Linked DNA regions of Homo sapiens: region 1 is linked to region 2. Evidence: fine-mapped expression QTL. A gene starts in region 2. The other region holds a variant in brackets. All regions are shown on one strand. Distances are from middle to middle. Region 1 overlaps GALNT16 (polypeptide N-acetylgalactosaminyltransferase 16). Region 2 holds the start of GALNT16 (polypeptide N-acetylgalactosaminyltransferase 16).

Evidence for each region. PIP is the estimated chance that this variant, and not a neighbour inherited with it, causes the effect.
Region 1: its variant is fine-mapped to the expression of GALNT16 in cerebellar hemisphere (GTEx, PIP above 0.99). The same link has a PIP of 0.9 or more in cerebellum.

What each region holds. Positions count from the first base shown.
Region 1 is chr14:69,347,858-69,356,177 of GRCh38, forward strand. GALNT16 (polypeptide N-acetylgalactosaminyltransferase 16) reads left to right here. Exons shown (of 15, transcript NM_001168368.2): 14 at 20-145; 15 at 4,174-6,609. The coding sequence ends at 4,311. Among named protein-coding and RNA genes, the nearest start is that of ERH, 46 kb to the right of the region's middle. RefSeq lists enhancers at 844-1,344, 6,357-6,456, 6,487-6,986. The variant G/A (reference allele first, on the strand shown) is at 4,527.
Region 2 is chr14:69,255,292-69,263,611 of GRCh38, forward strand. GALNT16 (polypeptide N-acetylgalactosaminyltransferase 16) reads left to right here and starts at 4,867. Exons shown (of 15, transcript NM_001168368.2): 1 at 4,867-5,176. The coding sequence starts at 5,000. GALNT16-AS1 (GALNT16 and EXD2 antisense RNA 1) reads right to left here and starts at 5,236. Exons shown (of 4, transcript NR_184249.1): 1 at 4,999-5,236; 2 at 1,763-2,010. RefSeq lists a silencer at 5,913-5,972.

The DNA.
Region 1 (8,320 bases), 93 kb after region 2:
TCTGCTCCCTGCCTTGCAGGCATGGCTGTTCAGTGACCACCTCATCCAGCAGCAGGGGAAGTGCCTGGCTGCCACCTCCACCTTAATGTCCTCCCCTGGATCCCCAGTCATACTGCAGATGTGCAACCCTAGAGAAGGCAAGCAGGTGAGTCTCCTTGCCTCTGGCCCAGAGGCCCAGCAGCCCGAGGGGCCATGCCTCAGGGTGGCAGACCTTGGCAGGAGAGCCCCTGATTGACTCAAATAAGCCCTTCAGAGCGAGGATCTGTGGGGAGGGGGAGCAAAGTCTACATCTAGGTCAAGCCAATTATTCTGCCCATGAGGAAATACTTCTTTGGGTAATTATTTGTTTAATGCCATCCTGCCAGGCTGTGAGCTCCATGAAGGCAGGGACCACTTGTCTTGTTAACACTGTATCCCTAGCTCCTGACAACCACCACAGTTCAAATAAGTGTTAGCTTTTACTGACAGTCTGTGCTAGAAGTTTGAAATAGATCATCTCATCTAATCCTCCCAGCCACCCAGTGACGTGGGTTCTAGTACTACCTCCATTTTATAAGTGAGTAAGCTGAGGCTCGCTGAATCTAAAGAATATATGTCAGATCACACAGCTGAGAAGGGGTGGAGCTGGGATTCAAACCCAGGTCAGTGACTTCTAGGCCCACAGTCTTAACCCAGCACATAGTAGATGTTCAATAAGTATTTCTTGACTGTTGGCAGACTAGGGAAACTGAGCTCCAGACACAGTGATGTCCAAGCTGGCATGACCAGCCTCACGTGAGCACTGCTTTTTCCATTGATCCGACACTCTCACCCACACTGTCACCACTAATCCTGGGAGACAGGTCAGGGTCAAGGAAGAAAGTGATGCACAGAGAGGTGGAGTCACTTGCTCAGGGTACACAGCAACCAGTGACAGTGGATTTCCAGAATCCAGCCAGCTCTCTTCTGTGCTACTCCCTTCCTGTCTTGGAGGGCTCCCTCACCACCCAGGGAATGGGACCCAAGGCCCAGAGGCTGCTCCAGCACTTCCCCTGCTCACCCTCCTCAGAAGCCCTCCCTGTGCCTGCCACTGGCTAGCCTGCCTCAGTCGGTGCAAGCAGTGAGGAGGGTGCCTGGGTCTCTGATTTGGCCTGCATGGTTTTCCTCCTACCCCTTTTTCTTTGCTTGGGTCAGCACGTTTTTTAAAGGATGAACAGCAGTTTGCTGTGCCATTCTGGAAAGCAGCCACAGCCTCTCCCTCCGGCCTGTGTGTGTCTGAGGGATCTGTGTGCCCAGCCCACTTGCTGGACCTGTGGGACACTTTAAGCGCTTTTGGATGGTGGGGGGATGCAGCCCACCCTCGGCCCTGCCCTGCAGTGGGGCTGGTGCAGTGTCTCCTGCACCTAGAGCACCCACCTCTCTGAGGGCAAATCCTTGAGCCCACGCCCACCCCCTCCCACTGAGGAATTATCTCCGAGCAAAGCCTCCACTCAATTGCCCCTCTGGGGCTGAATCACACATTTCCCCCTTTGTGCTGACCCAGCCTACGGGGTGTGTAGGTATCTCCTTGGCCCCATTCATTCTGCCCCTGCAAGTCCTGCCAGGCTCCCGATGGCATTCTGGGTGCCTGTGCCCCTCTTCTCCCAGGAGGACAGGATGAGCCAGCTATCCCACTGCCAATGCCTTCTGGAATCCGGGCCGTCCTTCTTGGTCCCCTGCTGGTCCTATTTCCAAGGCTAGCTGGGTTTCCTGTATCCGAGAGGCTCCTGTGCCTCAGACCTGGTGTGATGGAGTCAGCAGGCCCCAGCTCAGTCTTCCCTCCCCCTCCCTTCACTCAGTCTCCTCACTTATAAAATAAGGGGCTCCCTCCCCTGCTTACCTCACAAGGAATCCGCAAGAACCAAGATGTGGAGATGGGACAGTGGGTGATGTGACATTGTTTCTCAGACAAGCCCAGAATTGAGTGGCCTGGAGAGTCAAGAAGCCCTGAGATTGTGCCTAATAGCACTGATAAGAAGTGAGAATCCCGCTGTTTGGGGAGCACTTCCTAATGATTGGGTGATTCAGTCATTCGTTCATCTTAAAACAAAATGACGGCTGGGTGCAGTGGCTCATGCCTGTAATCCCAGCACTTTGGGAGGCTGAGATGGGTGGATCATGAGGTCAGGAGTTCGAGACCAGCCTGACCAAAATGGTGAAACCCCGTCTCTACTAAAAACACAAAAATTAGCCGGGCGTGGTGGCGCGCGTCTGTAATCCCAGCTACTCAGGAGGCTGAGACAGGAGAATCGCTTGAACCCGGGAGGCAGAGGTAGCAGTGAGCCGAGATCGTGTCACTGCACTCCTGCCTGGGTGACAGAGCGAGACTCAGTCTCAAACAAACAAAATGTCACTGGGTGCCTACCTTGTGCCAGAGAATGTACAGATCATGTTGGCCACAAGGATGAACGGACATGGTCCTTGACCCCCAGGGAATTTGCACTTTAGTGGAAGAGAAAGAAGGGAGTAAGACACTATATTACAGAAGGCTAGATGCTGAGGTAGCTCCAAGCACCACGACTCCCTGGGGTGAGGATGGCCATACTCTCTCCAGCTGGGCATTGCTGGAGGTTTGGCCTACATGAGGTAAATGTCAAGGACTAGAAGAGCATGAAGAAACAGGAGGGGGGATCCAAAGGCCCTTGACCTTTAGGCTCTCTGCGGGGGCCATGTGGGCCCAGAGAGGCTGGGTCTCAGCCCTACCCATCACGTCCTTGCATTCCCACTGGGAGCCCAGGCTCCGCCCCTGCCTTCCACCCTGTGTGCACATCCCCCCGCAGCCCTAGCCCTATCCCTGCAGCTGGGTGGGCTCATCTCTCTCCCCTCAGCTGCTCCCTGTCCACCAACTGCCCTCAGAGCCCTCTGGGCTTCCTCCACATGGTCACAAGCACTCCTGCCTCTAATCGAAGACACGGTGAATGAGAGAAGATGGAAGAGGGGAGGTGGTTGCAATGGGAGGCAAATAGGAGAGAAACCCAAACTAGACCTATCTTACTATTATTCTTCCCTGAGCCTTGAAACCTGGGTCTCTGCCTCTCATCCCTTCTCATAAATGTTCCAAGCAACACTCCATCCTCCACCCAGGCACTTCCGTAATGTTCTACAGGAGCAACTCTTCTCCCCCTTGTCAAACCCGGGGTCGGGGAGGCACCAGGAGGTGAAGGCACTGACCAGGAGCCCCTGCATGACTCTGTGATGCGAGACCTCCAGTCTCCCACCACCCTGCTGGCCCCACACTTCATCCCTACAAAGAAGGCAGCTTCCCACTAGGGGGTGTAGATTACTGGCCTCACAGGTCAGAAGCTTAGGAAGAATAAATCTTGTTTACAGAAATAAAAGATTTACCTAGGCCAGGACTGACAAGCTCAAGTGCCTACAGGGAGCTGGTGGGAAAACCCCAATAGGAGAAAAGTCGGGACCAGGCAGGAACTATGGTGACCTGCAGAACAAGAGCCCCATCTAAGGCAGAGGGCAAATCCTCAGCCCCAGCAACTGATGCCATGTAAGAAACTGGGTCCAATAACTACATAGAAGCTGGAAATGCAGATTTGCACGTGGCAACCAAGCTAAATTGTAAATAAACACAGGGGACTTCTGCTTTGCCTCCTCCTCTGATCTGGACAGGAACTTCTGCAAACTACAGAAAAGCAAGAGCCCTGCTGGGAAGGGCAGGGCTTAAAGCTGGTGTTAGAGGCAGGATGGGGGCAGCCTCTTACATAGGAACACACAGCCTGATTTAAATGAGGGGCATGACTGGGCATGGTAGCTCATGCCTGTAATCCCAGTGCTTTGGAAGGCCAAGACAGGTGGATCACTTGAGGTGAGACGTTCTAGCTAGACCAGCCTGGGCAACATAGCAAGACCCAGTCTCTGCAAAAAATTTAAAAATTAGCTGGGCGTGGTGGCATGCAGGTGTAGTCCTAGCTACTCAGAGGCTGAGGCAAGAGGATTGCTTGAACTCAGGAGTTCGAGGCTGCAGTGAGCTGTGGTAGCACCACTGTAAGAACAAGGTCATGCCTAAAAAGAAAGGAGGAGGGGGATGTGTCCTAGTTATATACAAGGGCTGTGTGCATACATGTGGAATGAAAGTACAACATTATTTTTTTAAATCATTGTTTTCTCCTTCCTCTTCTAACCCATCTCTGTTCCTCCTAGAAATGGAGGAGAAAAGGATCTTTCATCCAGCATTCAGTCAGTGGCCTCTGCCTGGAGACAAAGCCTGCCCAGCTGGTGACCAGCAAGTGTCAGGCTGACGCCCAGGCCCAGCAGTGGCAGCTGTTGCCACACACATGACGGTAGCCCTGGGGCCTCCTGTACCTTTTGCATGAGACTTCGGGACCGGAAGGGGGTTAGGGTGGGGGAGTGCAAAGTGGGCTGTTCCCATCTCCTCACATTTCTGCCAGGACCATCAGCAAATACCCACCATGACACACGTTCTCCAAAGCTTGTTCTAGGAGGGCGCAGGCGGGCACGCCCCGATGCCCTCAGTGCTGTCCTGGCCTTGCCCC[G/A]GGAGAGGAGATGGTCAGGGTGCTGGACTGTTGCTGGGTAGAGACTGAGTAGGTGCCCCTGGCCCTTTGTCCTCTCCCTTGGCGCTTCTTGGGGCTGGGACAATAGTGTGTGGTCTCTCCCTTGTTGCCCGGAGAAAGCAAGGACAGAAGCCCACACAGGGGTCTTTTGGGTCATGAGGCCCAGCTGTGCAGGCAGGCAGGGCCAGGGGAAATTGGGCAGCATGGATGGAGAGGCTGAAGGCTGGGAAGAGGGAAGGGGAGAGGGGCAGCCTGCAGGGGTAGCTGAAGAACAGGAAGGAGGTGAGAAGCCCGGTGACCTGTCAGAGATGCCAAGCCCAGGGTGGCACTGGGTTGGGTGGGGACGGATGGTGTCTTGGCAGCAAAGGATGGGTAATTTGCAAATGAACATGGATAGAAGAGCAGCAAAGCACCAAAAGAACAAGGTCTCTTACCCAGGACACAGTCCCTTCCACACTTTACCAGCCCCAGGGTCTGAGCCCGACGCTGCCTCTTCCGGTCCTGTGCCTGTGGGTGCCCACATTCTTAGCAAGAGGCTGCAGAGGGATCTTTAGGGGAAGATTCGGGCGTAGTTTATTAAACAGACTCCACTTCTATTTGGCCATGTGTCAGGCTGAGACCTCTCTCTCGGGCATTAATGAACAGCTAGTGCCCTGTCCCTGCCGCCAGGACCCACTGAAAGGACGGGTAGCCACACACATCCCTGAGTAGTCCCAGCCTCATTTGTCATTTTTGACTCCTGCTTTCTCAAAGGTTTTTGCCTCTGTCAATACAGCATCATGGGTGGTTGGAAAGAAGGGAACTTCCCTTCTGGACCAAGAACAGCCCCTAAGTCATTAGGGTTCAACCTCACCCTTATTCCCCTCCCCGCTACAGGAGCCCCTAAGTCATTAGGGCTCAACCTCACCCTTATTCCCCTCCCTACTACAGGAGGGATTTTCTTGAAGGGTCAGCTATTGCACTGTGCTGGGAGGCTGGCTGTGGCTCCTGTTTGTGAAGAGAACTCCCAGTTCCTTTTCACAGCCGCTGAGAACACATCCACACATCTACCCCACGGCCTTGTCTTGGAACTGCTCCTGCTATCCCCACACCCTGCTTCCTCACCCCACTGGCTCTTGGGCAAATGACTGTTGGTACCAGGACCCTGGGGGTCTCCCCTACAAAGCAGACCAGCCTGGGGCAGATATACCTACCACAGGAGCCCCCTGTCTTTCATAGGCCAAGGATCCACATACCCATAGAGTTCATGGATTCTAGAGGGTCTAGGAATCTCTTGAAATTGTCCCTAAAATACTGCATGTGTGTGCATACATGCATTTTCCTGGGGAAAAAGTCCATGGCTTCTAAAAGAGGTCCCTGATCCCCAAAGGGCCTGAACCTCTGCTCTGGATTGAAGCCACTGTCTGCCCAAGCTGCCACCCCCTAATCTTCCTCCCTGGCGTGCTCAAACTGCCATCGCCTGCTCCCTCCACACGGCCCTTGGGGTCAGCAGCCAAGTGTCTGTGGTCCGCAGCACCTGCTCTGGAGGGCTCTCCAGCAGTTTCGCCTCCTGACTCTCACCAGCGTCCTCTCGGCAGCACTCCCGTGCCCAAGTGCACCCCTCTGGACTTGCCAGCGCAGGCCCCTTCGCTCCCAGGGCCATGCTTTGCCTGTCCTCTGTCGTGATGTTTCTTCCGCAGCCAGGTGCAGCCTCAGATCCCCTGTTCATCTGGGAAGCCTCCTGCCACAGCTTAGGACAGAACTGGGCCCAGGGCAAAGGCCTCTCCCCAGAGGATGGACTAGAAGGCCTGGGCCACACTCGGGCATGGACCTTTGGGGCTGGGGAGCCGGGGCTGCGCCTGTTGAATGTAAGAGGACTGCTGACCAGAGGGCCTTCAAGAGGGTCTCTCTGTCCTTTGCTGTGGTCAGATCAGGCTCTGCACTTATCAGCCGGTCCTTTGTGGCAACGCAGCCCTGTTCTGTTTTTGCTTTTCCTCTTCTTGACCAAAGCATGTGCCACTAGCTGTCCTTGAGGACCTCGTCTTTATGAAACACACACCTGGAATAAAACCACTTCTTACATGTCCACATGCACCAGCGCCTTCCTTTCTGCCTCCAGGCCTAGCCCTTCAGCACACCCTCCCCCGCCTCGTGGGGAAAGTCCGGGCCTCCTTTCTGTAAAAGTGAAACTGAACATGCTCAAGTCTAGCCCTGTCCTGCACCTGGTAGCTTGCTCGTCGGCCTCCATGCCCTGTGGTGCCCCAGGAACTCCTGACTGCTCTGGTGGGGGCCAACAGGTGGCCCTACTGCAAGGGCAGGCCTTGGACCAAAACCAGGAATCAGCACAGGTCAGGTGGAGCCCAGGCTCCTGTGGCCTCATTATGGGATTCTACTTGGGGCTTAGAAATGGAAAGCAAATTGCTTCTCCAAATAGGTATTGCCCTGCCGCCGTGCTTGCCTTTAGCCAGCCCTCTCTCCTTCCCTGTGAGCCAGGCCTGTCCCCTCGGAGCTGCCCTCCCCTGCTCTACCACACAAGAAGGCAGTGGTACAAATTCAGGCAGGACATACTTCCTGGGTAAAAACAGCAAAATAATTCTGAAAAGAGTCTTACCAGACCAGCTTTGCTTGATTGGGTAGCAGATGCTCTGCCTAATGTTCCCATGGAAACCAATGGAAAACCCCCACCATGTCTGTGATCAGAAGCTGAACCTACCCAGGTAAAAATAAACGCTGCTTCAACATACATATGAACTGCAGCTGGCAGGCCAGCACACCACTAGCCTCTCCTGGACGCAACCATTTCTGCCCTCAGCCCCACTTTGCCGTGGGGCTGCTGATCTGGAGTTACCCAGAACTTCTGACCCCTGGGCCTGAGGAGCCTGGAGCAAAGCCCTAGCTGGCTGCAGAGAATACACCTTGGCTACAATGTCCAGCTTGGTCTGGGCTTAGGAGCAAGTCACTGTAAAAGACCTTGGCTGCAGCCTCCATTCCCCCATCCACCCCTCCGTCCTCTCAGGGAGCACAGCCCACCACCCACCGCCTACTCAGGGCTCCCTCCTGGCGCGCTGAGCCCCATTTCCACTCTCCATCTATTTTCACCCTCAGCCTTGGAGGGCTCTGGTGCTTGCTTCTCCTGAGTCAGGCTCTCTCCTCTTGCTTGCTCTCCTCCAAACCTACCTCTCCCAAAGCCCATTTTCTGTGCCACCCAGTTTTTTCCCTAGGAGATAAGGCTGTCAGCCTTTAGCCAGGCCCTGGAGGAATCAGCAAAAGCCCCAGGCTGGGTATTAACAGTTACGTCACTGGCAGGAGAGTCCCCCGAAAGCCTATGGGCAGGGCAGCAGAAGGGACTTCTGCACCAGGGCCAGACTCCCATTTGTACAGCAGGGAGCTGTTCCTGAGGATCCCTGGGCCTCTGTGACTTGGCTTCAGTTTTTACAAGGGCTGTTCCCCCTGGCCCCTCAGGAAGGCTGTCTCCATCTGCAGTTGGGAGAAATAACCTGGACAATATGACTGTCGTCCCAGGGTTCCAGCACCCCAAGGCCTGCGGGGGATGTCTCCCAGCACTGCATGGGGTGTGGTCCTTCTCCCACCAGGGAACAGGAAAGGAAACCTGGAAGGGAAAGGCTGGCATTTATAACGTCTGTAATTTCATTGCCAACAATGTTCTCAGTGTGTTTGGTATTTGTGTGTCCCTGTGATGGTCTGAGTCAGTGCTCCTCCAGAAGGAGGGGGCAACCCAGCCAGCTTCTCTAATGGGAAGAGGTCTTCACTGCCAGGCACTTAGGAAAGACCTGGAG
Region 2 (8,320 bases):
ACTTTCTCTCCCCCCTCATCCTGGGGCAGGAAGGTTTGGCCCTGGCTCCATGACTTGGGGAGGAAGCACTGGCAGGGGACTCCCTACACTGGCCCGCCCTGACCCTAAACGAATCACCCCCTTTGTCTGTGCTCTAGTCCTGTACTCATTTCTCAAGTGCTTGGCTTAAGAGAGAAGTGCATTTTTTCATAGAGCTACACTGCCTTTTCTCCTCCTTCCCTCTTCCTCTCCCTTCCTTCCATCAACAAATAACTATGCGATCGCATTCCAAGGGCTTCAGACAAACAAACAAACAAAAAAACAAATACTACACACTAACAAGCATGTACTATTTGCCACTACTATAGGCACCGGGGAAACAGTGGTAAGGAAAATATACAAGAACCCCAGTCCTCTTGGAATTTTTACTCCAGTGGCAGAAACTAATAAGTAAGAAACCAGGGTTATCAGACAAGTAGGAGGAGGAGGATTGACAATAAGAAAACTGCCAAGTTCCTTTCAAAGAGCTAAGTCCTTTCCTCCATCTATAATGGTTTATAGAAACTACCTTATAAATATCTTTTCCTTAGAGACGATTGGTGCATTGAGTGCGCTCAGCTGGCAGTGGGCAGCGCATGCTCCACTTTATGCTGGCACCTCCGTGGGCATCAGTCTCCTCCCCTGTGGAAGGGGGATGATTGCGCCTTCCTCACAGGGTCGTTATGAGTATTCTGAGATCGTGTATCAGCACATTGCCTGTTGCTTGGTAACATACATTCTGTCCACCATCCCTGCCTTCTTTCCTGCTTAGAGCAGACATGGGCCAGTAAGGGTATCCAATCAGGTCCCTTCCCTACCTTCTGGGCCCTGCTGCTGTGGACAGAGCAAGAGCTTCTGAGCTGGCCCAGCACCTCAAATGGGAGGCTGGGGCCCTGCTCTGTGCCTCTCCCCTGCCTTGCCTCCAGCCTGCTCAGCAGAGGCTCTGGAAGATGCAGCCACCCACCCACGGGCAGGACAGTCTATGACTGCTGGACATTAGCCATGGCCAAAGAGGCTGGCATCAGGTCTGTTCTTGGCAGCAATAGTGAGCAGTCCCTTTCAGGAGGCCCCTTTCACCTCCAGCAGCCAGCAACAGCCTGCAGGAGAGAGCCCCTGGGGGGTGCTTATGAGGCACTGGATTTTACATGACTTTATTTCATCCTATCTTTCCCAACAAAGTTGTGAGGTAAGAGCTGTCAGTGCCCCATTTTGCAGTTGAGGAAACTGAGGTTAAGAATTTGCCCAAACCACTCTCTTAATTTGTGACAGGATCAGCATTCAAGTTCAGGTTGTCCAATTCCAGAGCCAGGGCCTTACACTGAGCTGTACCCTTTCCCCCTCGGTTATCCACTCCTCCACAACCCCCACACCAAAGGCCCAGAGGCAGAGAGCTCCCTGGGGCATCTGGGAGCCCCAGGGGCATGTGGAACTTTGCCCAGCTTACCCTGAGTGCTGGCTTTGACAGCTTTAAAACAATATGAACTGTGCCTAAGAGAAATCCTGAAAAGGAGGAAATGCAAGTTCAAAGTGGCACAGTTGGTGAGACCCCCCCACCCCAGGACATCTTATATCCCTCCTTTTATGGATGAGAAAACGGAGAACTGTGGGCAGGGAAAGTGAGACTCCTGCATACAGAAATTCAGACCACACTGCAGATTTCCCAGTGGCCTCAGAAGCCCTGTACTCGTACCCAGACACAAGCGTTGAAAATGGCACAGGACTTAAACCGAGCTTCACCACTTACTTGCTGTAGGATTCCAGGCAAGTTGAGTAGCCGTTGAGCTTCAGTGTCATCATCTGCAGTTGGGGATATGATCATCCTTAGCTCAGGGTTGTAGGGGCTTTAGAGACAGTATAGGTGACAGTACCTGGTAGGTACTGAGTAAACTGCAGCTATTATGATGACTCTTGTTTTCACAGTTCAAAGTATGTGAAGAAACAGTGAATTCCTTAGGTGTTGCTTTGATTCTGTGATGCTGCTGGAGTCCATTCCTAGTACCAGAGAGGAAACAACACTCATTGTCATTTCTGAGCATTGAAACCTATCCCAGGGAGGGCCAGTTCTGCACCCACTTGGGATTACAATCTGAAACGAAGACCACAGACTGTAGCCAAGGTGGCAATTCCTGGTCTTTAGCTCTGCCAGAGTGCCTATGGCTTCAGGCACATTACTCCACCTCTGTCTATGTGGAATTCCTGTCAGTCAAATGAGCATGGCAATTACTTGCTGTCTTACCCCCACCCCACCCCCATCATCCCCCAGGGAAGTGCCCAACTAAGGAACAACTGTGGTGAAGTCATCTAGAGAGGCTACGCTTCACTTCTGTGCAGTCTTTCTGGTGGTGGGGGCCAAGCAAACCTTCTCTCAGGGACAGAACTACCAGGAGTGACCATTTGGGGCAGATATATAGCATCCTCACCACTGAGCCCTGGGCAGTAAGTGGTGAGATGTGAGAAACCCTGCCACATTCCAGCCCATCCCACCCCTCCCTCCTTCCCCCCATGGAGCCTTCCTTTTGGAGTCACCAGAAGCCCCAACTGTCTGGTTTCAGTCAGCATGGTCCAGCTTCATCCCCGTGCCGAGGGGTGAGTTTGGAGCCTTTTACCAGGAGGTGATAGGTGATGTGATGTCTTCGAATCCCACATCCAAAGGCAACTAGAGATGCACAGACCAGGCTGGGATGAGGGGAGCAGCCTATGACAACAGGGCTACTCCCCAAGTTTTCACCTGGCTCACCTGAGAGATGTGTGAAAATGGGGGCACCAGGAGGGTAGTTCCCTTACATTTTCTTGGTTGACCTGAGAGGCCTGTGGAGCCTGATTCCCAAGGAGCAAGGTCTTTCCTGGCCTCCCACAAATGGCACCGCTGGATCTGCCCCATGATTCCTGCGGAAACCAGATGGAGGTTTGGCAGTGGTTTTCTCCATCTATGCAAACAAGCCCTGGCCCCTGGCGCAGTCTTATTAAACTCCCCAGGGGAGAGAGACCTGGGAGAGCATCTGGCGTCTCCAGACTCCTGCCCCTGTTGTGACTGCCACACCTTATGCCTGAAATTCCCTGCTACTTGTGTAGACCCTTTGTGAGGCCCTCTTTGTGCATTCTCTTCTTTCTAGGTCCCATTCCTGCGTGGGTCACTTTTGGACTTGTCTAAGTGTCATCGTAATTAGTCTTCTGAGTGAGGATATCGTATTGCAGTAATGACCCTGGGTTTTCCTCAGCAAAAACCCAACTAGGGTTTCTTCACCTCAACAGAAATGTATTGAGCATCTATTATATGTGCGGTTCAGTCTCGAGTGCTGGAGAAATGGAGAAAAGCCACCTGATTTTACTTCTATCTGTCAGGGTGGTGCTCATGGGATGCTTGTGGGGGGGCATGATGCTGTGACTTCAGTTTGCCTGATTCCCCAGATGGCTTCATTTAGAGGCTGGACCCTATGTGGGTCTTCGGAGTAGCCATGGTGTCCAGCAGTGCCAGCAGGAAGCAGACTCCTCAACAACTCTGCCCCGGCATTCAAGGACCTCCTGAGTTCAGACTCACCCAGCCTGGCCAACCTCAACTCCTATCAAATCCTAGGCCCCCTGCAACGCCTGGCAGCTCTCTCTCTTGAACACATCAAGCTCTTCCATCCTCTGGATTTTTGCAAGGCCTATTTCTGCAGTCTCTCCCCTGTCCTCACCTCCCCCTTCCTTACCTCTTAAGTGATTCATCCACCTTTCTGAGAGCTTTCCCAAAGGCCACCTTACAATAAATTATTTCTTCCTCTGTTGGATCCCTACTTTGTTGTTACACATCTATTCATTGAGCGCTCTGTGCCCGACACTGTGCTGGTTTCCTAAAACTCATCCAAGCCTCTTGCTTTCTGCCTGGAGTGAAGAGTAGTTCACGTTCTGATTCTCAGTGCCTCTAGGGCTGGAGCGGAATCTTAATGTCTGTGTCCTCGTCTCTCACCACCGCGTTTTGCACTTTGTCGAAAGGTGTCAGATGGTGAGATGGCTTCTAGACTGGGCTCTGCCCACTAATTAGCTGTGTGGCCTTGGGAGAATCATCCGGCCTCTCTTGCTGCCCTTCTTTCCGATGAAATAATGCTGACGATGATATTTCAGGGTTGTCCAGGGGTCAATGAGGCGGGATAGAGGGAAGCATCGTGAAATCTGGGAGCCCCAGGCCAGCGAAAAATGTGGAAGGGCCGTACCCGCACTCTCCTAGCACTGGGTGTGAGGCAGCGTCGTTTCCCCTTCGCGCTCTTCGAATGTCAAGTGCACCAGCTTCCAATCCCTCCTCTGGGCGGGCCCGGTCTGGCTAATCTCAGCTGCAGATTCCAGTACAAACTCAGGACTCTCCCCCGCCCAGCCGCCCCTACACAAGGACTCGCCGAACACACCTTGAATCCCGCGCCAGAGCGCAGCCCGGAACTGCAGCTCGCGGCGCGGGCCCAGGTCGGGGGTCGCGCGTCTCCAGTCGGTGACTCAAGGCCGCTCGGTCCGGGGGTGGGTGTGGGTCGGCAGGACCGACCAGGGCCGCGCGGGGGCAGCTGCCGGGCGTTCGGTCACCTAGCGGTGGGAGCCGAGGCTGGCTTTGGCCAGTCGCCATTCCGCCGCGGGCGTCTGTCTCGCCGGGTTCCCGGGCGCGGGAGGAAGGCCCGCGCCGCTTCCCACTCGGCGCGCTTCTCTCCCAGTGCGCAGTGGCCTGGTGGGTCAGCCGGCGGCGGCTGGAGCGCGGGGCCGGCCCTGCGCACGAATGAATGGGCGCCCGGGGGACGCGCGCGCTCGGGGCTGAAGGGCATTAGGACCGTGAGGATCGCTCCGCGATCCTGTCTCTCCCTATCACCCCCCCGCCCCCCCACCTCTCTCCTTTTTCTGCTCTGCAGGACTGAGCAGCTAGGCGCGAGCGAAAACAAACAGCTGGGGCTGCGAGCGCCCCCGCCCCGGCCCCGAGAGCACGCCGGCCCAGTCCCCCACCTGGGGCGCCCGTCTGCCCACCATGAGGAAGATCCGCGCCAATGCCATCGCCATCCTGACCGTAGCCTGGATCCTGGGCACTTTCTACTACTTATGGCAGGACAACCGAGCCCACGCAGCATCCTCCGGCGGCCGGGGCGCGCAGAGGGCAGGCAGGAGGTCGGAGCAGCTCCGCGAGGACCGCACCATCCCGCTCATTGTGAGTACGCCCCGAGCGTCGGCCGGCCGGCTAGGGAGCCGCGGCGCGCGTCCAGACCCTGCGCGGCGGCCGAGGGCGCGGGGCCCGGCCAGGGCTGAGTGCCCGCTGCGCCGGGCCGGCTTTGTATATGTTGGAGCATTCCTGCCCGTTGTTATGGCAACCTCTGCCGGGCGGCGGGGCTGGGGCGCACCGACTAAGGGAGGGTGACAGAGGGTGGGGGCTGGGAGAAAGTGCTGCAAGTTTGGTGGGCCCGGCGTGCGCGCGCGGCTGGGAACGTGGCGGCTCTCCCGGCTCTGCGCTGCCGGGGCCGGGAGTCTGGGGGCTGCGGGAGCCTCGTGTGCCCCGGAAGGCTGCCGGGCCCAGCGCGCGGCGAGCGGGCGGTGGGAACCACTCGCAGCCGAGCGCGTAGGTGGCAGTGCGCAGCCCCTCTCCAGCCTTCTGGGGGCAGAGGACATCGGGTGGGGGCGTGGGTAGGGGAAGGCTCTCTAGGCGCTGCGCCTGGCTTCGAACCCCCTTCTGAGCCGGGTCAACTTGAACCCGCTTCTTCGGCGCGGACACCCAGCTTCCCCGGAGTTCTCTGGGTTGAGGAGAGGTCTCGCACTGTACGCGTCTCTCACTCCCAACCTTAGGGTCCGCCACCACGGGTAGGTGGGCAGTGTCAGCGCCCGAACTTGGCGATACCCTTGCATGAAGTCAGCCTCGCGACATCTAAGCGGGCAGGGAAACAAAGGCAGTGTGGCACAGCGGGGGCGGCGGCGGGGCTGCGGGGGCCCTTGGCGCTCTGGGGACCCGGGCGGGGGCGTGCGGAGCCGCAGCCGCCCTGCAGGGGGCGATCCTGTCGCCGTCTCCGTCCGAGCCCCAGGTGACAGAGCTGTGCGTGGCCAGGCAGGGGCACCTGTTGAGGCGGGAGGCTTTGGCACCCGCCGAGAGTGCGCTCGAGCGGGCGCATTCTTCCAGACGGGGGCGGTTGGTGGACGAGAGCCTCGGACGACCCTCGGGAACTACCAGGGCGGGGCAGCCTGGCCGGATGAGGACCAGGAAGAGGAGAGCCGAGTGGGGCGGGGGTAAAGGAGTGAGGAAGCGTGGCGATTCCGACAAGGAAAGATCTGGGCCTGGGGGTGGAGGGGTGAGGAGATCCGCGGGGGAGGTGCAAGGTCCGGAGGGCTGAGGCTTGTGTGGAGCCGAATCCGAGAAACGCATCCAGACGCGGATCTGAACCCCAGGAATATCGGGAAGTTCATTGGAGAGTGTCCCCTCATATTCCCATCCTGCCCCAGATTCCGAGTCCCCTGCAAAGGAAACATTATTTCAGGGCTTTGCCTGAGGAGACCTGGGGCGGGGGGGTGAGGTTGTGGGTTTTGTCCTAGATACCAGTCTGGGTGAACTCTCTGGGGGCAAGCCTGATTAGGTGCACTGTTCCCTTCTGGGCTGTTCTCCCAGGACACTGTTTCCAAAGCACTTGTCGCCCTTTGGACAGAAAACTGATAAGGAAAAGCCTCCTGTGCTGAGGCCCCAGAGTGTTGTGATCTGAGCAGAGGGACAGGTTGGAGCTGGAACTGTCCAAACCAGCAGTGGCCTCCAGACCCCAGGGAGCTTCCTCTCCAGGAGCCCAGGCTGCCACATTCATACTCAGTGGCAGGAAGAGCCCTAGTCTCAGGCAAGGCAGGCTGGCCAGATGCTCTGTCCCTCTTTCTGGTGAGGCGATGAGAAGAGGGTCTGAGTTGGAAGGGGCGGAGAAAGAGGCTGGGCAGGGAGGAGAGGAGGGAAGAGAGCACAGGAGACTGCTGCTCAGAGCCTCTGCTTTGGAACCCGGAACCTGAACCCTGACCTGGCCCATGCACCTCTCTCCTGCTCCTTCCAGAGTCCTGTAAGATGCACTGGGAGGGCCGCTCACATTTCTCAAGAGTCCCAGAATGGTGTAGGGGACCTGCTGGAAGGATTCAGCACTCATTTTGAGGGGTGGGAATTGGAGGTCATGAGAATCACCAGTAAACATCCTCTTGTCCCTGCTTATTCCCACAGGGTTTGACTTGCTGCAGGTAAGAAAAGGTCTCAGAGCGGGAAGCTAAGTTTAAAGTATGAAGGAGTATCAGGGAGATACCTGGGAGCTGGGAAGTGAAGGTGCAGGAAGAAAGGGAGAATGGAAGTCCCTGGGAGTGGCAGAGCCTTCTGTGGCCACTTAGGGGCACAGCCAGCTCCCTCTTTGTTCTTAAGCTTTAGATGCCTGTTCCACCAGCACTGACCCCCCCGTCAGGCACCACTTTTGACAACTGCCTTGCATTGTTTCATTGTATTCCTCTCTTCCAGTTATTTCTTCCATGTGATTTGCAGCTGAATGTAAGTGATGCATGCGGGAACTGTGCTGGAAGCTCCTTGCATCCCCACATTGATGCACACAGCAAGATTTCTTTTTTTCTTTTTTTTTTTTTTGAGATGGAGTCTCACTCTGTCACCCAGGCTGGAGTGAGGTGGCATGATCTCGGCTCACTGTAACCTCCACCTCCCGGGTTCAAGCGATTCTCATGCCTCAGCCTCTCGAGCAGCTGGGATTACAGGCATGCGCCACCACTCTCAGCTAATTTTTGTATTTTTAGTAGAGATGGGGTTTCATCATGTTGCCCAGGCTGGTCTCAAACTCCTGACCTCATGTGATCCATTCACCTCAGCCTCCTAAAGTGCACAGCAAGGCTTCTTAAAGGAGTGAAATAGGATTCTCACCCATTTCTGGGGGCAGTCAATGCTTCACATCCCCCTAATATTATTGTATTATATTCATATCTCCTTAATATTTTATTATCAACTGTAACCTCTAAGTAAGGAGGTGGCTCTAAGTAAGGAGGTGGGGGATGTACGTTCAAGCTTCTGCAGGCATTGAATGCTTTGTTCAACTTAAAAGGGGCAGGTGCAGCTGAGGATTTACTTTCTCCCTGCAATTTGTGGTAACCGCTTATTCAGAAACATTTCTCTGTCTAGTTGGGCCAGGATGCTGCATGTGGATTTTCAGATTCTTAGAGAATGATGTGGCTAGCCCTGCTGTCAGAGGCTGGCAAATTCAGACAGGCGTCATCATTGCTCCCTTGGGGAATCAGAGAGCTGAGCTGGGAAAGGGAGGGTCTGCAGAAGCGCCTGGACCTGGAGGCAGCT